Linked DNA regions of Homo sapiens. The main gene of each other region encodes a partner of the protein of the gene in region 2 in a complex. Each region holds a gene or a part of one and is shown on either strand. Other genes may lie near its edges.

Evidence for each region.
Region 1: the proteins of TXN (region 2) and NFKB1 are in contact, whole or in part, in an NMR structure (PDB 1MDI), measured with the Homo sapiens proteins. Residues at the interface, in NP_003320.2 of Homo sapiens: Thr30, Trp31, Cys32, Pro34, Met37, Ile38, Asp58, Val59, Asp60, Asp61, Gln63, Ala66, Ser67, Val71, Lys72, Pro75, Ser90, Gly91, Ala92; in NP_001158884.1 of Homo sapiens: Arg56, Phe57, Arg58, Tyr59, Val60, Cys61, Glu62, Gly63, Pro64.

Annotation. Positions count from the first base shown.
Region 1 is NC_000004.12:102,495,768-102,506,768, reverse strand, and holds the start of NFKB1 (nuclear factor NF-kappa-B p105 subunit), read right to left. Parts: upstream 5,411-11,001; 5' UTR 4,981-5,410; intron 4,836-4,980; exon of another isoform or gene 4,597-4,835; intron 4,331-4,596; exon of another isoform or gene 4,283-4,330; intron 1-4,282.
Region 2 is NC_000009.12:110,251,727-110,262,756, forward strand, and holds the start of TXN (thioredoxin), read right to left. Parts: upstream 4,782-11,030; 5' UTR 4,710-4,781; coding exon 4,686-4,709; intron 1-4,685. UniProt on the Homo sapiens protein: Participates in various redox reactions through the reversible oxidation of its active center dithiol to a disulfide and catalyzes dithiol-disulfide exchange reactions.

The DNA.
Region 1 (11,001 bases), on a different chromosome or scaffold from region 2:
TGAAGTGAGCAGCGCTCAATAAAATGGTTGTTTTCCCACAGGACTGCATTAGGGTTCCCAGGGGGCACAATGACACTAGGACAGGGAGTATTGGCATTTTGCTCTTTTCTAGTCTAAATGGTATATTTCATTTAAAAAACTGTGTCCACAAAAAAATAAATGGTTCAATTCAGAAATTCAAGGCCAACTTTTAAAAAATGCTACAACTGAAAAATAATGAACAAACTGTGCTAGGATGAGGCCCCAGCTTCTATAGTGTTGGAAAAATCATTAAAGTATGAAAGTGGAAAGTACAGTAAACCCTGCTAACTGCCTGCTTGTTCCTGAGGTTTGCCATCTAGTAACTTTTAACAGTCACAGATTTATGGGTGATAGGTGTTTAATTCTAGAGGTAACATAACAAAATAACATATTTTGTTTTAACTTTTTGGTTGATTAATTTAGATAAGTGTTAACAATTCTTAGATTACCAAGCAGTGCTTGTAGCATTGTTTCTTTTTTGGAGGTATTAGTATTTGATATTACAGTTTCAATGGAGTGTACAGAAATTCTAACTTCACCAAAAAATTACATTTTTCAATTTTACAAGCACCTTTTATCATTCCAATTACTTTATAATCTTGCTCTGGTGCCTCTAAAACTTTGAAACTAAAAGGCATTTTTTTTCTAGTTCATAAATGCCTCTTTCAGAATGAAATGTTCCCCTTTTGGAAGGCGCCAGATACTTTTTAATAAATTATTTGTTCTAGTAAACTTCAAGTGGTCTTTAGATAAGATTTCCATAATATCTAAGACACAAGGACTATTTTGTGCTCCTTTCTTTCCAGAAGGCAAAGCAAAATAATGTAATTTTTGTTCCTTATAGAAGATGGCTGTCCATTTAAAAAAAAATTTTGCAACAACTTCATATCATTCATTCATTTAACAGTTAATGATTGCTTACTATGTACCAACAAGTACAATGCTAAGCATCAGATATTTCTTTCGTCAGTATTGATTAGATATTATTTATTTTTAGTTAAACTAGAGTATTTGATTCTCTCAAACAGCTTTTTCTTTATTTCATTTTTTATAATTTTGGCTATTTTAAAGAATAAATTCTTTTCTAAAGCTTAAGCAGTCAAAATTTGTCACAGTTTAAACTAATAGGATCCATAGATGAACTCAAGTCTGTTGATATCTACTGAAGGCATGGGTCAAAATAAAAGCTATTTTAAGGTTTCTGGATTAATGGTGAAAGATGAATGAAAAATAATAAGGCAATTTGTAATGGATAATTAAACCAAATATATCATTATTCTAATTTCAAAAACAGGCAATAAATTAAAGCAGATGAAATTTGTATTACTGATAATTAATTCTGTTTGTTACTACAGAAAATATGACACAATAAAAATTGTTTTCTTTTTAAAATGTAAAATGCACTATTTTTATTATTAGTACTCTAAATTAAACAAATATTTTCATCCATAATCTATCTTCTGAGATTTCTATAATCTTTAACAAATCACATCTTATGTGACTCTTATTCTGTACAGAACTGTCAGGCTTTAAATTATTTGAGGTGTAGCAATGCAATTTGCACAACTTATTTTCTAAACTGTTGGCTGATCTTCAAGGCCAGGTCAACAACCTCCGGAAATGTAAAAGACAGTATATTAATTTGCACCCAGGAACAACCCCTAATACAGCAGAGACCAAAGGTATGAAGCAATTTCATCATCATTAAAAGAATGTTACTACTTTTTTCTCTTTTTTTCTTCTAAAAGTGAGGCACTGGATACTAATTAATGAAATACTACAAAGATAAAAGGCTTGGTTATGTTACCAGAACTATTAACTGTCCAAATTATGTGGTTTCAAATATTAATCTTTTTTGATTAAAAAAATTCACAGTCAAGGAGCCAAACTGACTTGCAGGACTATGCCAAAACGTTCAAACCTTTCTCCCTGAGGCTGAGTACCTTCAGTTCTTCCAAACTGTCTGTCTCCAAAGTAGTGACAAAATTCAAAGAGAGATCATATGCTCTTGATGGTTTATTGCTGACCTCTAAGAACACTACAAGTGAGTTCAGTATTTATGGGAGGTGCAAGAGTGCAAATGAGAACTAATTCCCAAAAAGCAGAGTAAATTGCTCCAGTATGGTCTACTGTTTACCAAGACGTAGTCATCAATTAATGCTGATTAGACACAAATGTAGATGTAGGAGCAGAACATCTTAACATATCCTCTAGCACTAACTTCTATTTTTCCTTCTCCTTCTCTTCTAATATAACAATCCCACTACTGTAGACAATTCACCTTGTAAACAGAAAACCAACAGACCAACCGAATAAAACAAACTTCCTACTAAAAGTAAGAAAATTAATGAGAAATTTTGCATAGACATCCATTCCTGTTAATGTGATTTCTGATCAATCTGTGGACCAGAAGAGCATAATCTGAGAATTTACTCTATTGGTTATACAACAGTACTGTGCATTTCCAGATACACTTCCTACTGCAGTCAATTCTATACTCAGAATAGCACATCTACTAAGACCCGAAGATGCAAAAGATGACATTTTGAGTACTTCATCAAAAATCCATACAGCAACTCAGATACAATTATTTTACTGTTTGAAAATATCGACTACTTTTCTTACTTCTCCCAAGTTCAAACCAATTGAAGGTTATGAAGTAACCACTTCCCCCCAGAAGCCAGAACTTTCACCTCTTCTGAACAGAGAAATACCTCTCATAAATTAGGTAAAAATAAGGTCTTGCTGATGGAATGATAGTCCAACATTCATGTAGCTGCCAATTCCCTATCTAGACCTCGTATCTACCACAATGAGCAATCCCTGAAAGTCAAGGTAGTAACTTACTTAATCAATTATCTGCAAGTCTAAAAGTGTAGTTAAAACAACCTGCATAAATATTAGTTTCTCAAACTACTTCAATTTGTTTCCAGGAACAGTAACAACAGAAATGTAAGGAATATAATCACTAAATCTAAAATTCTGCCTATTTCAGATTAATTGTGCTTTAATCAACTCAATCAACACAGATCTTGTTTAAGAGGTAGAGTAAAAAGGAAGTGCAAAGATCAAAGCAATGCTTACAAAGGGGAAGGACTATTTTTGTATGTATACCCCCAGTATTTACTATCTGGGTTTGAAAAACACGGGCATTTACTCAGCACAAGTGAGTGCCAATGCCTAACATAAGAATGAAATTTCAGCAAAAAGATAATAGATTTTCACATCACCACCAACCCCTAAAAGGATTATACTACCTTCTTTAAAAAGTCTCAAAGAGTTTAGAAGTGGTTTGCTTTTCACTGCAAGCAGCTTTTCGGTTCCAGTATTAAATGTACATATAACGTGTGTTCCTTTGTGTTCAAGTTTGTCCAGTAGGCTGCAGCCCAGGAAGACATTTTATCTAAACAAGCAGGGGAGGGCATTTAGGAATTGCAGGTGTATCAATATGGATGAATAATCTCAGATTCCAAGTCTCCATTAATCGTACATGTTCTTTCCATTTTAGCAATTCAATTAAATCATGAATGTAAAATTCTACAGGAAACAAATCTTTTTATTTCCTGTCTTCCCAAGTTTATAAACTCAAAAAAGTACATTGCTTCAAATTTAAATACATACATTTAAATACATAATTCCTATAGTGCCTCAAACAGTAAAAGGATTCATCTCTAGAAAGCACAATATTAAAATCAGAAAAACAACATACTTTAGTTTTAAGTTTCCCTTTTAAAGTTTTAACAAACACGAATGCAGTTTAAACTGCTTGACAATATTCAGTTGTGGGATTCTGCTAGAAAAAAATTATTGAATATCTTGACCCTAACCTTTACTATTTACTAAAAGATCACCAGTATGTAGAATATTTTGATGCCAGAGCTATTAAATGTTTTAGTAATACCATAAGCATTTTTTCAGATTATGAGCTTTATAAAAAAATCTTTGAGTTAAATATGGTTATTTCATAAACTGTAATGCTGAAAACCTCTACTTAACAAAGTCCATGAACATGTCAATCTTGATAATTAAATCCTGTATCATTAAGTCCCATTTGAGTTTCAGGATAAACCAGCAAGTCAGGGCAAACATTCCCTGGTGTCTGTTTTTAAGGACCATAGAAAAACTTGCATTTAGGATAGGCCTTGTTTTTACATTATTTTTGTTTCAGCGGTCATGCATAATGCATGGTGGCACTGTCCAAGAGTTTTACATAATCAAGTCTAAAAAGTGCTCTAAGTATCCAGGTAGGTAATTTATTTTCTCTCTCAAATGCCAGGCCCCGGAGGATCAGAATCAAGTCCTATAGCAGGTGACTATATCGTGTGTGTGTGTGTGTGTGTGTGTGTGTGTGTGTGTGCGCGCGCGCGCGCGCACGGAGGGGGGGAGGGGGGAGAGAGAGAGAGACAGAGAGCGAGCCAGGTTTCTTTTAGAAGTAGGAGAGGGATGAATAGACTCTCCTATTCAATTCTGGGGAGCTGGGGAGGGCTTTCCCAGCCAAGAGGACTGACAAGCACTTCTGCTTTCATTTCATGGAACGCCCTTAGGTGAAATCTGGTTCTGCACTGCACCAACCACCTTCCCTCTCTCCTCCGCGCCGCAGCGCACTCCAACCTTCTCACCATCCCCCAGGTGGGGCTGGGGTTGGGGATTTTAAAAGTTTGTAAGAGTTCCCCTCCGGTTCGCGTTCCCGCCCCGCGGAGGGACGTGAAGAGAAATGACCGCCGGGCGGCCGCGGCCCTTCGGCCGACTAGCCCCTGCGAGGTCCGGATGTGTCTTTCCCCGCTGTCGCTAATCCCATGTGCCTCTCAGCTACTGTCAACCTCCTCCCACGGTCTAGCCCAGCGGTTAGCGCAGGAATGAGGAAGTCCGAGTGGGGCTGGAGGGGGTGCGGAGGGCTGGGCGGCAGGACTTGGGCCACGCGTCCCCTGCCGGGCCCCCACTCGCCCGAGTTTGGCTTACCCGGGTGGCGAGTCCGCGTTCGGCCTCCTGGCGCGGGTGGGCTCTCCCTCCTAAGCGGCGCGGGCCTGCCGGCTGGAGAAGGAAGAGGCGGCGGCAGGCCGGAGCCCGGGCGGGCCCGAGTGCGGGTCGGGGCGAGCGGGAGCGCGGCGGGGCCGGGCCAGGCCAGTCAGCGCCGCGCCATGGCCGCAGCGCGGGCGGAGGGAAGCGCAGGGCGCGCGGTGGCCGGGCGGCGGCGCCGCCTTACTGGCCGGGCGGCTGCGGCCTCGGCGGCGCTGGGCTCCGGGAGCGGGGCCGGTGGCTGCGTGCAGGCCGAGGGCTGCGGCGGCTGGCGGCCCGACCGACGGGAAGGGCAGGGGAAGCTGTCAGCGCGTCGCCGGGCCGCTCCGGTGGCGAAACCTCCTCTTCCTGCCCCGGCTCGCTGGTGCACTTCTCTCTCTTTCTGTCTCGCTCACTCTCTCACTTCCTGGCTGGAAATTCCCACTGACGTCGAGAGAGCATACAGACAGACGGACACACGCGCGCACGCAGCGGGGGCGGGAGGTAGGGTCGCTGCCGGGGGTGGGGGAAGCCCGCACTTCTAGGGGCGCTGTGCGCCCCCGGCCCGGCCTTGCCGCTCGCCTCGGCTCCCGCCCCTCGGGGCCGCTTCGGGGCGCCGGGCGAGGGGCGCGCGTTAGGCGGCCTGGACGCCGCGGCCCCTGCGGGGCTCTGGCTTCCTAGCAGGGCGCTCCCGAATCCCAAGGGCTGGAGCCGGTAGGGAAGCCCCCAGGAAGCGCCTGCCGGGCCCAATCAATGGTCGGGGAACGCAGGCAGCACGGAGGCGGCGGCGGTGGCAGTGCCGCTGATAGAGTCATGCGGTCCATAGCCCCTAAGGGCAGGCCCGAGCAGCTGGAGGGTCGGCATGGATCCAAGCATGCCAGATATAAAAATAAAGCTCATCTGTATATTCCATTTAAGCGTGTCTCAGTTACATTCACATCTCTTCACAGATTAAACTACAATTTCGTTATCATAAACGACTTGTGCCCAGTAAAGTATAACCCTCTACTGGTTTTTGGTGCGGTCTTAAATCTCCTGGTTATAGAGCAGTTACTCAGAATGTTCATCTACAAGGCATTGTTAGGCCTTTATGATAATTACTGTGGATAGAATTATAGTGATGGTGGTAGCAATGGTTTTGGTTCACAGCTCATAAAATACTGATCTGGCAGAGGGGAGTTTTCTTTTTCTCTGAAGAGACCGCTACTGGCACCCACTGACAGGCCTCCCAGTGGCCACCATTCACTGGCATCTGAGCTGCTTTAGTGCTGGGCACTGTATTAGGTACAGGCTGGGGATACCTTCGGGTGGATTACCTCCCCACATAAGAAAGCTTGAGCCGAAATATATATTTTAGAGCTCATTGTTTCACTACTGGGTGGAGTGACAACTGAAAGCTTAGCTTTAAAACATCAGTAATCAGGTCCTCACCAGGCAATATTGCAGTGGCATTTAGATTGCTTATGGCATGTTCATCCTAGTCCTTTCGTGCCCACTCTCCATCCTCCTCCTCCAGTAGGTTATAAAAACCTTCTTGGTGGAGTGTTTTTCTGGAAAAAAAAAATAAACAAAAAAAACCCACACACACAAAAACCCAGCGATCCATTTGATTGCCTATGAGGTGAGTCTCCGAGGCGACCTTGGAGGCCCCAACAGTCGACCTTTAAGTGATCTCATTTAGCTCCGGGAGGCTGAGCAGCTGGAATTTAGAGGATCCATAAAGACTGAACACAATGACTTTTTAAGAAATTCTGTGAGCCGGGTGCGGTGGCTCACACCTGTAATCCCAGCACTTTGGGAGGCCAAGGCGGGTGGATCCCCTGAGGTCAGGAGTTTGAGACCAGCCTGACCAATATGGTGAAACCCCATCTCTACTAACAATACAAAAAAATTAGCCGGGCGTGGTGGCGGGCGCCTGTAATCCCAGCTACTCCAGAGGCTGAGGCAGGAGAATCGCTTGAACCCTGGAGGCAGAGGTTGCAGTGAGCCAAGATTGCGCCACTGCACTCCAGCCTGGGCGAGACAGAGCGATACTCTGAGAAAGAAAGAAAGAGAGAGGGAGGGAGAGAGGGAGGGAGGGAGGGAGGTGTGAGCATACACACTCTACTTTTCATTCTGCAAGGGGTGGCAGCCCCATTACCAAAAGATAGATAAATACAATTGTTATAAGAGTAGAGCCAGTGTGACATATTTGGGAGTAAAAAATGAAGAGCGTTAATTACTGAAAAGGATTAAATCAAACTCCAAACTCAAAATGATTCCATAAAATGAACTTAAAATTCAGGGTAGGGTGTTGAGCAGGCATATTTTCCTGGGGCTGCTGTAAAAATTTACCACCGACTGAACAGCTTACAACGGGAATTTATTCTGTCACAGTCCTGGAGCCTAAAATTCTGAACTCAAGGTGCCATTAAGGCCATGATCCCTCTGAAGGCTCTAGGGAAGAATCCTTTGCCTCCTCCTAGCTTCTGGTAGCTCCAGCAATCCTTGCCATTCTTGGCTTGGCTGCAACACTCCATTCTGTGCCTACATTGTCACATGGTCTCCTTCCCCGTGTTTCCTTTGTGTCGCTATATTCAACTCTCCCTCACCTTTCTTTTATGAAGACACCAGTCATTGGATTTAGAGCCCACCCCAATCCAGTATTACCTCATCTTAACTTGATAACATTTGCAAAGATCCTAGTTCCAAATAAACTCATGTTCACAGGTACCTGTGGTTAGGACTTGAACATATGTTTTGGGGGGATGTAATTCCATGCAGCACAGCAGGCAAAACTATAAAAGCTTTTTGGCTTGCTGATTAACCCTCCTCCATTCCTGCTTTGTTACCCAACATTTTCTCTACACTGTACAAACCTGCTTCCAGGAATATCTCTTACAAATTCATCCATCCTAAGGTGTCAGAAGGTATTTGCCATTATCAGGCTACGAAGAGGAAAAAAATGCCTCAATGTGGAATTTCAGACATCAATATTGTCTAAAAGACAAGTTATTTTGTGTTTGTCACTTGTCTTAGTTCATTTGTGTTGCTATGGCAGAATACACAAGACTAGGTAGCTTATAATGAAAAGAGGTTTATTAGGCTCACAGTCTTCAGACTGTACAAGAAGCATGGCACCAGCATATGCGTCTGGTGAGGGCCTCAGGCTGCTTCCACTCAATGGAAGGCAAAGGCGGGTGGTGTGTGCAGAGAGATCGTATGGCGAGAGAGAGGGGAGAGATGCCAAACTTTTTAGCAACCAGCTCTCATAGGAACTAATGCAGTGAGAACTCACTCATCCTCTCCTCCTTGCAGGGAATAGCATCAATCTATTTGTGAGGGATCCACCTCCATGACCGAAACATCTCCCATTAGGCCCCACCTCCAAAATTGGGGTCACATTTCAACATGAGGTTTAGAGGAGACAAATACCCAAACCATAGCATCACTAAATCATTGAAACTACACAAATTTCCCTTCTCATGAAGCTATTTTGGAAATACCAGTGTGGAGAGAATTCTGAGGTTGAGATCTGTGTAGTGTGTTCATTGGCAATGAGAACATAGGAAAAGTATGTCTTCTTTTTAATTGCCTCTGAGTAAAGGTGACACAACACTTCTGCCCACATTCCATGGCCCCACTTAGATGCAAGAGAGCAGGGAACTACAGTTCTTCTGGTTGGTTAGGAGGTTGAAATAGGTCGGCTAAGCATATGGTTAATACCTGCTATACACGTATTCACTTATTTGGTTGTCAGTCATATAAAGTGGATCACCATTATAATCCCCATATTTACAGATGAAAAGTTGAATAATTTTCCTAAGGTTTCATAATTAGTAAATAGAAGGAGAGTCAGGATTTGAACCTAACAGATTTGGCTCCAGTGTGCATGATATTAACCACCACACTAAACTATTATCCAATGATATAAAAAGGAGCATGTAAGAGATTTTTAGAAGATGAGGTCAACAGGACCTGTTTATAGATTATATATGCAGTTTGAGTGAGAGGAAGACTCATAGATAGCTCTGAGTGTTCTAGTCTGAGTGATTAGAATAGTAACACTGTAACTGGGAAAAAATCTGTGGGAATGTAATGCATTCCCACATACCAAACATACATGTAACATGTAAACATACATATTTTAGACATGTTTAGTATGACAGATTTAGTGAGATGTCCATATGGAAATGACTAATAAATATGCAATTGAAAACTCAAGGCTGCTGCTCAGAGAGACATGGCGTTGGAAATGGAAACAACTGCAAAGATGCGATAGTTGTCAGGAGAGTGTTTCTAAAACATTAGTGGTCAAAGAGTTAGGAGACAAGGGGCTAAGTACAGGAATTCGAGGAATGACTTTATTTCTGGGGTTGGTATGAGAGAGAGATGCTTAAAAACTCCTGCAGTGCCATCAAAAGTGGGAGGAAAGCTCAGAAAGCCAGAGAAGAGAGAGTTTAAAGGGTATGAGAGCTCTCAACAGTGTCAGATACTGCAGACAGTTCCTAAAGGATGGAGAGGGGAAGAGACAGTTGACTTTGTGAATTATAAAATCCTAAGCCCGGCCTCGGGGCATGGCTGTGCAGCCAAGGGCAGAAACCAGTCTTTCTTCTGTTCACTCTGCTCGCTGTCTTGGAGGAAAAGGGAACTTTATTAACTCTCAAATAGCACTGATACGCAGTGGCTGTGGTCTTACATGACTTTTTCAGATGTGTTTCAATATAATGAGGAAAACCAAGAATGAGGAGACTGACAAGTGAGTGGGAAATGGGGAAACGAGGGCATAAGTGCAAAAGAATCTCACCAAGAGTTTGGAGTGAGAGGGAAGGAAAGAGGAGTTAGTGTGATTCTTCATTTATTTGACTAACACTTATGGAGTGCCAGAGTTAATGGAAGTTTGGAAAGGTGGAGAGATAGTTTAACGAGTTAATAGCGTTAATAACAGAAAGATTAATGAGGGAGCCGGAGCCAGAAGAAAGGAGACTGTGCGGAGCTCGTAATGTAGGTGAGGAGGCAGGAACAAATCTGCCTGTGTGAGATATGAGGAGGAAGAGTACAGAGAAGAGAGGCCCCAAGAAGAGGGGGAGGATTAGGCTATAATCATCAGCTGAAATACACTAAACCAAAAATGAGAATAAACCCTTAGAGAATGTGTTTGTTAGGGCTGCCAAAACAAAATATCTCAGACTGGGTGGCTTAAACAACAGAAATATTTTTTATCGTTCTAGAGACTGGAAGTTCAACAGCAATGTGTTGGCAGCATTGGTTTACTTGAGGGCTTCTCTCCTTGGCTTGCAGATGGCCATCTTCTCCCTGTCCTCATGTGGTTGTCCCTCTGTGTCCACGTCCAAATCATTTCGTCTTATAAGGACATCAGTCATATTAGATTAGGGCCCATCCCACTGTCCTCATTTTAACTTATATACCTCTTTAAAAACCCTATCTCAAAATCCAGTTACATTCTGAGGTACTGGGGGTTAGGACTTCAACATAGGAATTTCAGGGTGGGTGACATTATTCAGCCCATAACAGAGAGATATCTTTTAATGATTTCTATGAAGGCATGGAAATAGAGACTTAACTCATCCCGGTTGATCCAGGACTATCTTGCTTTTAGCACAGAGAGTCCCTTGCGCAGGAAACCCTCAGGCTCTAGTAAACCAGGGTGATTGGTCATGCTATATGAAGCCGACAAAACTGTTCTGAGTGAAATAAGGCTAGTTACTGGACATCATTGAGACAGCTGCCAATTACTTGTTTTTATGGAGGAGGTTTGCTTCTGTTTTCTGAAAGGTTGTATATCTGGCTGTCAAATCTATTCATAAGTGATGGTCTGACACTTATACATGCCTCTTTAATAAGATAAATATGGTTTTGCATATATATAACTCCTGATAAGCTTTTACAGAAATCTGAAAGAAATGTGAAATTATGTCATTTATTAATATATTGTTAATAAATACAAGTTATTAATATTAATATACTATATTTATTATATTAATA
Region 2 (11,030 bases):
ACTATTTTATAAAATATTGTGAACTGGCTATTTTTTCTCTACACCAAACAAAAGGAAAATAAAAATAGACATTTGTATTAAAAATGTTTCCATGTCAAGGCTAGGTATATGGTAGACATTCATTAAACACTTATGGATTATGAAAGGGGTCACTTGAAGTCACAAAGGCATAGGATTTTGCAATTGAAACATCACAAGTTACTTAAAGATAAAAGTTGGCTGGGCATGGTGGCTCACACCTGTAATCTCAGCACTTTGGGAGGCCGAGGTGGGCGGATCACTAGGTCAGGAGTTCGAGACCAGCCTGGCCAATATGGTGAAATGCTGTCTCTACTAAAAATACAGAAACTAGCTGGGCGTGGTGGCATATGCCTGTAGTCCCAGCCACTCAGGAGGCTGAGGCAGGAGAATAGCTTGAACTCAGGAGGCGGAGGTTGCAGTGAGCCAAAATTGTGCCACTGCACTCCATCCTGGGCAATAGACGGAGACTCTGTCGCAAAAAAAAAAAAAAAAAAAAAAGCTATGACTTTTGATTAAACTCATTTGTCTATGGTGGACCATACGAAAATCTAAAATTTTTTGAAAAGTCAAGGAAACTCACCTTTCCCAAACCTCAACACTCAGACATCACCGTTGACATAAGCATAATGGGGTTTCCAGAGCTGAGATCACACGTTTACCAACCTTTGATTTTTGCCCTTTATTTTAAAACTATACCCTTGTCATTCATTAAATGAAAGTTTTCGTTCCTCATGAAGGAAATTTTTCATAGATATTATTTTTCATAAGGAATGCTTGTTAAATAAAATTCTCAGTAGAAATGATCAAGAAATCTCTTACCACTAACTTCCCTGAATTATTTACTATCTAGATACTGTAACCCTGGGAACCGAATATTCTAGTTACCAAGGACTCATTTTTGTTTTGTTTTGTTTTTGAGACGGAGTTTCACTTGTTGCCCAGGCTGGAGTGCAAAGGCCTGATCTCGGCTCACAGTAACCTTTGCCTCCGGGGTTCAAGTGATTCTCTTGCCTCAGCCTCCTGAGTAGCTGGGATTACAAGCCTCTGCCACCAGTCCCAGCTAATTTTTGTATTTTTAGTAGAGACAGAGTTTCGCCATGTTGACCAGGCTGGTCTTGAACTCCTGACCTGAAGTGATCCACCCGCCTTGGCCTCCCAAAACAAAGGACTCATTTTAACCACATTAGTACGTTAGTGCTGACCAAACCCAAAAACCAAACCAGAGCAATTAAGATAAATCAAAACATAAACATCTGTATCTGAAATCTAGGTTTTCTTCAAGGAAACAATGCTGGTCAAATAGGTTTAAAAAAAAATGAACATTCCCCGCCCCCCACCGCCACAAGAGGTCTCGTAAAGAAAGAAATCAAATAAATAAAAAACCATAAGATAAAAAACCAAATAAACAAAAAAAAACCCAACAAGAAAACACTAATATGACCTCATGTACTAATAGTTACTTCTCTAGATTTCTAATTTCTACCTCGTTTTTGGGAAAATAATTCACAAATGGTGTTCCTGAGAAAGGTAGGACAACACTTTCATAAATTTTTTAGTTATGCAAATCCCTGAACCCCACCTCTAGAGGTGGAGACATGGGGAGAGCTGCAGCAGGGTACATAGAAGTATAGCAATTGTTTTTCCAAATCATCACTTATTGTTCCAGATCAATTTCATTCAAAGCCTTCCCTAATGTGATTTTCAAGAAAGTTAAACCAGGCATCCTTTATTGCAAGATCCAGGTAAGACAGGAAAAAAGGTCAAGAAATGCCAATGTCTGGTTGAATAGACATTTTTGTTTTTTTAACATGATTAACCCTTATTAAAAACTTGAGATTACTTTCAAGAGGGAAGGTATTTCAAACATACTCAAGGCTTTTCCAAAACAGTTCTGAATCAAATTTAAGCACAAGTACCTAAAATTCTGAAAAGAGGCACGCAACAATAACTTTTAGCCTAACTGAACATGAGTTACACCCCACGTATGTGCAGGCTTCATGTACAAATTCTCTTCTGATACTTCTAAACGGGTATCAGCTTGAAAATTATTCAAGATTGTATTACTAAGAAGAAATCACAATTTCTAGCTCCCAGAAACTAACAGGATTAATAAATGTCTCCATCACTGACACCAATAATCTGGGGGAAGCAGAACAGTGTAGTTGGGGTAAATAGGAGCAAGAGTCTAAGATCTCGTTGCCTCAACATACCTACTCTGAGGGTAATAAGTGTGAGTGGTTTCTGAAGTACTTAGCCAAGTGCCTTGTAGATGGGAGTTCAATAAATGGTAGGTGTCATTTTTTTTAAAAGTGTTTATTTCTTCCTCATCACATTTACAGTCAATTATTCCATTCCTCTCTGAAATAGATCCCAGTTGGCCCTAAAGCACCAACAGAGTACCTCAGAAACAGAATTGTTCTGAATGGCAAATGGTGCAAATTTAGCCCATTAGGATGAAAATGTAACATGTATTCAACATTTACAAATAACAGGCTGGGCGTGGTGGTTCACGCCTGTAATCCTAGCACTTTGGGAGCCTGAGGTTGGTGGATCACCTGAAGTCAGGAGTTCGAGACAAACCTGACCAACATGGTGAAACCCCATCTCTACTAAAAATACAAAATTACTGGGCATTTTGGCAGCGCATGCCTGTAATCCCAGCTGTGCAGGAGGCTGAGGCAAGAGAATCGCTTGAACTCAGGAGGTGGAGGTTGCAGTGGGCCGAGATCGCGCCACTGTACTCCAGCCAGGGCAACAAGGGCAAAACTCCATCTCGAAAAACAAACTAACAGACAAATAACAATCAAATTAGTGTAACTTTCGATCAATGACTTTGGATTGTTATTTTGAGGATTAATTGATTATCAGGGCCTTTGGGCCCCAGGCTGTAGTGCTTTTTTTAAAGTTCCTGTCACCCTTGTACACCTTTGTCACTGGTAGAGGAGGAAGGTGCTCTGACATGCTCTGACAACTGGGAGGACTAAACTGTGTGCTCCAGAAATCCTAATCAACTTTGTTTGTAGTGTCTGGATTTTGGGACAACTAACATAGACCACTCAAAGGTCTTCTGGCTCAGTGGAGGGGGTTCTTAGCAGTTGGGTTATACTGAGGTTGCCAGACCCTGGAGAACAGAATCCCAGCCCCACTCCCTTCCCCAGGAATGGATTAATAATTTGTCACACAATAGGTGCTTGGAAAAAAAGTATATGAAAGACAATTCACTACTAAGGATCTTTTCAACACATGAGGGCTGCTAAAATGAGAATCCCACTAAGAAAAAACTGATTGAGAGGAAGATAAAAGATGACAGTGGCAATCAACATATGAGGAAAAAACACTGAGAGTCAATAATAATCAAAGGAACAAAAGGATCGGGGACACATTGCAGACACACTTCTGTTTCCGAAGCCCACCCGGCACCAAACAGGTCAGGGCACCCGAGGCGGGCGAGGACCCGCCCTCCTCTGCTTCCCGCAGGTAGGGAGGGGTAATCGCAGGGTAGGCGCTGGCGAGGGGTCTTCTACCGTTCGAGCAGTATCAATTTCCTCCACTCACTTTTCTGACGCTGCATTTAACAAATATTTCTGGAGTGGCTACATTGGACTAGACACTGCGCGTTAGGCTCTGGGTTTCCCAGTCTACAAGGTTTTAGGCTTGCAATAACTTTCAAACATGGGAAGGCTGTTTCGCCTTGGGCATTTTTAAGAGGACAAAACAACGATCGGGATACCGATAGGTCGGCGAGCAGGCAGCAGGGCGCGGCTGCTCCCAGGAGGAACCCTGGCTCCAGCAAAACCCACCGACTGAGGGTGAATCATGGACGGGCAGGGCAGCCGAGGCCCCCGGGCCCAACCTTGGGGACTCAGTCATTCCAAAGCCACTGCTGCCGGAAACGCGCCCTGCGCCACAGGAGTCCCGTGGGCGCGGCCCGGACCTCACTTCCTCGCGGTCACCTGGGGCCCTCGGGCCTCCTGGACAGACCTGCACGTGCCAGGGGGTCTCCAGCCGCAATCCGCCCCCTTAGTGCGGATACAGCACGCGTCACCTTTGGGGTCGGGCATGGGTGGAGGCAGGCGGGGGTCTCCGGCCTAGACCCGCTCCCAAAGGGAGATCACTACCCCCGCTGCGGGTGGATCACTTCACATACGGAAAGGCAGCGGCGGCCACCGACCCGTGCCTTCTGCAAGGGCCCTCCCTATCCTTGCCTGGGGCCTGAATCTGGATACAGATGGGGGGCCAAGGGCGGACCCCTTCCATTCCCTCATCTTCCTCCAGTCGGGGCTGCCCGGACGGGAGGGTGCAGGAGGCGCAGCGTGGGGACTCCTCACGCTGTCTGCGCTCTCACATCCCCCGGACGCTCCCCGCGTGCGTGCAATCCCCCGAGGAACAGGGTGCGAGAAACGCTGGGCACCGCCACTCCGCCCTCCAGGGGACCCTCGTCCTTCTCCTCCCTTCCTCCAGGGCAGGCTCCACCGCCTCGGGCGCGCCCAGGCCGCTGCTTCCCGCAGTCCCAGGCCGAGACGCCGCGTCCCTTTCCCCTGGCGATGCGGAGGGGCGGCCTCCGCACCTCCCGCCACCGCCTTCCCCACCTCCCGCCACCGCCTTCCCCAGTTACAGAGGCCGCGCGCGGCGCCGGCACCCTGGCCTTCCCCGGTAGCGCGTACCTTGCTCTCGATCTGCTTCACCATCTTGGCTGCTGGAGTCTGACGAGCGGCTGTAAGGACCGATGGAAATGGATCCAAAGCACCAAACAGAGCTTCAAGACTCGCTGCTTGCTCTCTCCCTTTATAAACTGGCACGCCCGGCGTGCGTGTGGCGGGGGCGCGCGCGCCCGGCCGGACCTCCGCGCCCGTCGCTGCGCCCCGGCCACGCCCCGCCCCTGGAGCCTGCGAGCCGGGATCGGGGCGGGGCTGGCGCAAGCGTGGGGCGGAGCTCCAGGGCTTCGGCTCCTGTAACCCCAAGCCCAGCTCGCACTCCAGCTGGAAGTGGGGATCAGCACTGCGCGTGACGGTGGGAGGCGGGGAGACGGACAGTCACCCCCAGAGACACAAGGTCCCTCCCGGGTCACCTGGGGATGCGTCCGCCGGGCCTGAATCGAACACGCCCACGCTCGAGATGGGGACCGCCCAGGCAGGGCTGGATTCCTCGAAAAGGGCCGCCACGCCCCGGCCCCCCCAGCCACGTGAACCCCACAAAGTGCTGAGTAACGGTGACCGGGAAGTATCTCGGTGTGTACGTCCTTGCCTCCTCTCCGGAATTTACCGTGACCGTTCTCTTCTCTGTAACCTCCTTCTGTTCTTTCATTTTCACTGCTGAGCCCGCTGCTCCAGCTTGACACAGCGGTTTAGTGCGGTAGAAACGACCGGGGGACTGGTTGGGCTCTTGACCATCAGACAGCTGCGTGTGAGATGGAAGTGCCACTGGGTTGAGCTCTGCAACTTAGTTACGCAGTTGTGACCCTGGAAAGGTCCTGACCTCCTGAAGTCTCAGTGTTTCCTTCTGTAGAACGGGAATCATGATGGTCTCAATCTCACGGTGGTGGTATTTTGAGGGTTAATAGTGCTTGCAAAGGACGGTGCTTGGCACATAGTAAACACTCCATAGATAGTTCTTACTGTTCGGTGTCTTGCAGGGACTGATTGGGCCTGGCCACCTTATACAGCATTTACAATGGCACAGCACGCACACTTGTGTGAGATTCTTCTAACAGAGGCAGACTCCTGGAACAGAAGTCGGAGTTTGCATTGATCCAGGAATGCCTGTTGCAGGTTATGTCTGGCAGGGCTGGGGATTGTGGAAGGTGGGTATGTTAGCTGGCCTTGTGGAGCCAGGAGGGCCTGTCAGCGGCTGGAAGTGGAGGTTGAAAAGCTGCTCACAGGAACGAGAGCTAGAAGGCTGGGAGGGAGAGTCCCAGGTCTGTGTTTTCAGAGCTGAGCTGTTCCCGATGAAGCTGCAACTAGGTGTGATTGCCTAGGGGTGGTGATACTGCTGCCTGGCTGCCCCCTGAAATCCCTGGCTTCCTTCTTTCACTCTTTCAGACAGAGGAAGGGAGGAAACCAGAGGTTTTGAATCTATTGTGCAAAGTTTCTAGGGGGCTGAGGAGCACGGAGCATGAATATGGATATAGGCAAGGGACACATTCTAAAGACAGCCCATAGGGAGGGAAGACAGACTGCCCTGAATGCAGCAATGTTCCCAAAGAGAGGGAGGTTATTGGGGCAGAGAGGAAGGAGCTGTATGGAGCACCCAGAGCAGAATCTATAACCTGCTTTTCTGCTGCTGGGTTTTCAGTTCAGCTGCATCCCAGCTTCCTGACTTTTATCTGTTTGTTGGTGAATTTGCATGGGTGATAACAACAAATCATTGAGTTCCAGGAAGGGGCAATGCAGGCCATCCTCAGCTGACTTCTCTCCAAAGACCTTCCAAATGTCCAGTGACTCAGTGAAGGAGGTACTCCCTCTCTCCCACCTCCACAGCACCAATGCAGAGTAGATGTGGAGGATGGTACAGTTATAAGGAACTGGGAGGCCAGTCTGGACTCTGCAATTTGACTCCGTTGTCCTCATCCCTACTCTACCACTTCATGACTGGGTAACTCTAGGCAAGTCTAAATAGCCTTTTTGTGCCTCAGTTTCCTTATGTGAGAAGTGGGCGTAATAATAGCTTGTGCTATTATAAGGGTTGAGTGAACTAAAATATATGTAAAATGCTTAGAACCGTGCCTGGTGTGTAGTGAATGCTACATGAACTATGATTATAGGCTATTAAATGAATGATGAGATCCATCTGGAATGATGGCAGAGCTAGGGTGGAAGGAGAGATTATAAAACAGGTGTCAGTCTTAAATGAATTAAGTAATGAAGACAGTAGTAATGAACAGTGAGCTCCGTAACATAAGCCTCAAAGGAAAAGGCCTTTTTTTTCCCTGCAAGGAAGAAAGAAAAGTGGGCTGCACCTGGTCCCAAGGAGCAGGTTCCCTGCATTTGTGGCAAGGAGGTGACGTTCTTTGAGGAGAGTGAGGTACAGGGGAATTATTTGGGACTGCCCAGAGAGGAAGCGTTCATTTGTGCAGAGAAATGTAGAGGCTCTGTGTGTTAGTCAGAATTTTCAGTTGCAAGGAGAAATTCTAGCTCAAACTGACGTAAAGCAAAAAGAGAATTAGTAACTCAGATTAGCAAGAACCCCAGGGGCCTAATGATGTCAAAGGGCACCATCTCTCTTAGTTTCATTCTCAAGTAGGCACTCTATGTAAGAGTGGAGTAGGCAGCTCCAGACTTAGGTTCTTACTAGTTTAGTATCTCTACAGGAAGAGTGTTCCTCTTCCTTGTTCTTATAAATGTCTGAGAGGCTGACCTTCACTTTCATGGTGGGGAAAGGGATTAGCCTTGCTTGAAGCTTTGCACTAAGAGTAGGGAAAATCCAGGGGGTTACCAGAAAAGGGGAGATTGCTGCCGGACCAGCAAAAATGATATTTTTATGTCACCCAGAAGGGCGGAAACATGTAACAAGGGTGATGGGCCTGCTTCAGGCCTGGGTCAGCTGAGTCCAGCCTCCACATGGGACTGGAGAACTGGGTCAGCTGTCTTTGTTTGGGTCTCAACTCGAATTTGAAGAAAATGTAATTGTAGGATTTCTGAAACAAGTTTTTCTCACATCCCACGTGTCTCTGAGTGGTTCTTGACCACCTAATTCATCATAGCCAAAGGTGCTCGATGATACTGCACATTCCTGGACCACACCCAGACAGACATACAGAATCAGTCTTTTGAGGTAAGGCTTTGTAATCTGCATTTTTAAAAAGCATCTCAGGTGATTGGGTACACTAAGATTTGATGAGCTTTGCCATGGGACCTTCAGAGGGAGGCCAGCATTAGTTAAGCTTCAAGACTGTGTCTAGCAAGAGAGTTGAGATGGGAACTCAAAAGAGAATGTGGTAAGTGACATAAAATCAGGAGCTCGAAGTACTACAGTAAAAAAAGTGGTAGAAGGAAAAGGAACAAATTAACCTGGGTGGGACAGTCATTAAATGCCAAGCCTAGAGTTGGGCGTGTCTTATCATTCCTCTCAATATCCCTTAGAAGATAGACATTATTTTTCCTATTTTACAGAGAAAGAAATTGAGATTCAAAGAGGTCACCTAGTCATATCCAATGTTCACTAATTCTTATACTCTGTCCATGAAGGGTGGGAAGTATCAGCACAGTTCTCAAGCCCATCTGCATATATTAAGTACTCCTCATTTCACCAGTGAAAAATATCTGACATCCCTTATGCTAATGTGCCGTATATTACAACACATCAAATCTTAACTATTTAGATTGTAAAAACTAATTTACGCATAACTATATCACACTTTAATTGCCAAGTATTTTAATGTAAATTTCAGATAATATAATAACCCCTGTGAGTAACCTACCCTGCACATCACTGCTCCTTATAGCCCTTAATTTGGTCCAGTGGTCACCCTTGCTGCCCGCTTGAGCCCTTTCACCATGTAGCATGGAATCATCTGGATTCAGCAAGCACCACTGTATTCCCAGATGTTTCTTTTTGCTTTAACCGAAAGTTTTGCCCATCTCAGTGTATATCATTGCATGACATACAATGCTCCATGTATGTCACAGCCAGGCGGTAAGGCAAGTGCTTCCCTTTGCTGCATCCAGATTCTTTCTCCTTCCAAAATCCCAGATTTTTAGAAAGAAAAAAAAAATTTTTTTTTGAAAGAAAAAGGAACTTGACCTTTACAGCATGCCATAAAATTACTTAGAATTTACCAAGGAACTCCTGGAAGAAGACATTAGAGATAATCTTTGCAACCTTGAGGTAGGCAAATATTTCTTAGGCAGAACACAGAAATCACTAGCTATAAATGAAAAAGTTAATAAATTTGGCTTCTCACAACACACATACACAAATATGTGAGGTGATGCATATGTTAATTAGCTTGATTTAGCCATTCTACATTGTATACCTATATCAAAATATGTTGTACACCATCAATGTATACAAGTTTCACTTGTCAATTAAAAAATAATTTTTTAAAAATGGGGGAAGCTAGCAGTCTTGCATCCCCTGTGAAGGGATGTATGTTCTAGTGGGTGGATTTTACTTGATATTAAGTATTGTTATAAGTAGTTAGATAGGCATGAGTGAGGCAGGAGAGGGCTCTCTACCCACCCACTAGGAATGTCAGGTGATGGTTGGACAATTATCACACCACCACTCTAAAAACGATAATGTGGCAGCCTAACCAGGGTGCCAGGGAGAGGCCATTTCCTGGTGATCCACAGCTGTTAACATTAAAGCGTTAAATGAATCCAGATGCCCGGGAGAAGAAACTGCCTGGGCATGTGCACTAAGAGACAAAATGGCAAAATAAGACATTCCAGGCAGGCTCTTCCAGAAAAAGGGAAGAAAGTCTCAGATAGGCATGCATATGACTTCCTAAACACGCTGTGTGTGCTCAATTCCCAAGGGTAAGGGGGCAGGCACTAGGCAGGCAGCCCACCCTGAGGGAAGAATCATGGGAAAGAGGTAAGCCTATAAAATCCTGAGATGAAGTCGAATTCTTCTGAGGAGGCAAGGACGAAGTTGCTGCAGATGTGTACAGATCGCCGCTAATAATTCAGGGTAACTTGGATCTCTTCCACTGGTAACAGAATCATCTCAAGAAAATAAAAATAAATAGAATAAATTATAAAAACTAAAAATCTCTGCTCTTTGAAAACCATTGCTTAAAAATAAATGAAAATGAATAAATAAATTTCTCCCAGTCTGTGACTGGAAGAAAGTATGCTCAATACATACTTCTAACAAAGGACCTACATTCAGAATATATAGGGATCTGTTACAGCTCAATAATGGGAAGACAAATAAGCAGTAAAAACATGGCAATAGATTTGAACACATACTTCTTAAAAGAAGATATATATCAAGAGGCTGAGGCAGGAGAATCGCTTGAATGCAGGAGGCGGAGGTTGCAGTGAGCCGAGATGGTGCCACTGCACTCCAGCCTGGGACGTTTTCTCAAAAGAAAGAGAAGATATATAAATGACCAGTAAGCACATAAACAGATGGATTGCTCAACATCATTCGTCACCAGTGCAATTCAAATTAAAACCATAATAAGATACCACTATGTGACCTCTAGGCTGGTAAAATTAAAACAAAACAAAACACACATACACAGACACTACCACATGCTGGCAAGATTGTGGACTAATTGGAAATAATTCATACTTCACTGGTAGGATTATAAAATTGTACACCCACTTTGAAAAACAGTTTGGCAAGTTTTGTTTTTTGTTTTTGTTTTTAATGAAGTTACACACACATTTACCATATGACCTAGTAATTCCACTTCTAGGCATTTACCCTCCAAAAATTAAAACACATGTATATAAGGACTTGCATATGAATGTTGGGAGCAGCTTTATTCATGATAGCTCTAAACTAAAAACAACCCAAATGTTCACCAACAGGTGAAATAATAATAAATGTGATATGTCCATACAATAGAATACTTCTCAGCAACAAAAAGGAACAAAATGCTTATATACACAAAAACATGAGTAAATATAAAAAGCACCACTGAGTGGAAGAAGCCAGACACTAAAGATTGTATTAACTCATTCCTATGAAGTTCTAGAATAGGTAAGTCTATAGTGACAGAAAGTAAATCAATGGTTTCTTGGTGTTGGGGTGGGAGGATTGCAGTAAGGCACGGGAAACTTTTTGGTGATTACATAGGTCCGTACATTTTCTACACCTCATGGAAAAATGCACTAAAAAGAGGTACATTTTATTATGGATACAAATAATACCCTCAATAAAGTTTATTTAAACTGTAAAACATGTGGTCTTTGAATAATCCTGTCTAGGCACAAAAACCATCTGTAAAGACATTAAAATACATAAAAACATAAAAATATGTAAGGGAACAAAGATAAGTTGAAACATTTCAGCAGAGCTCTAACTTGGGCCACAAAAATTCTAAGCATGGCTAAGTG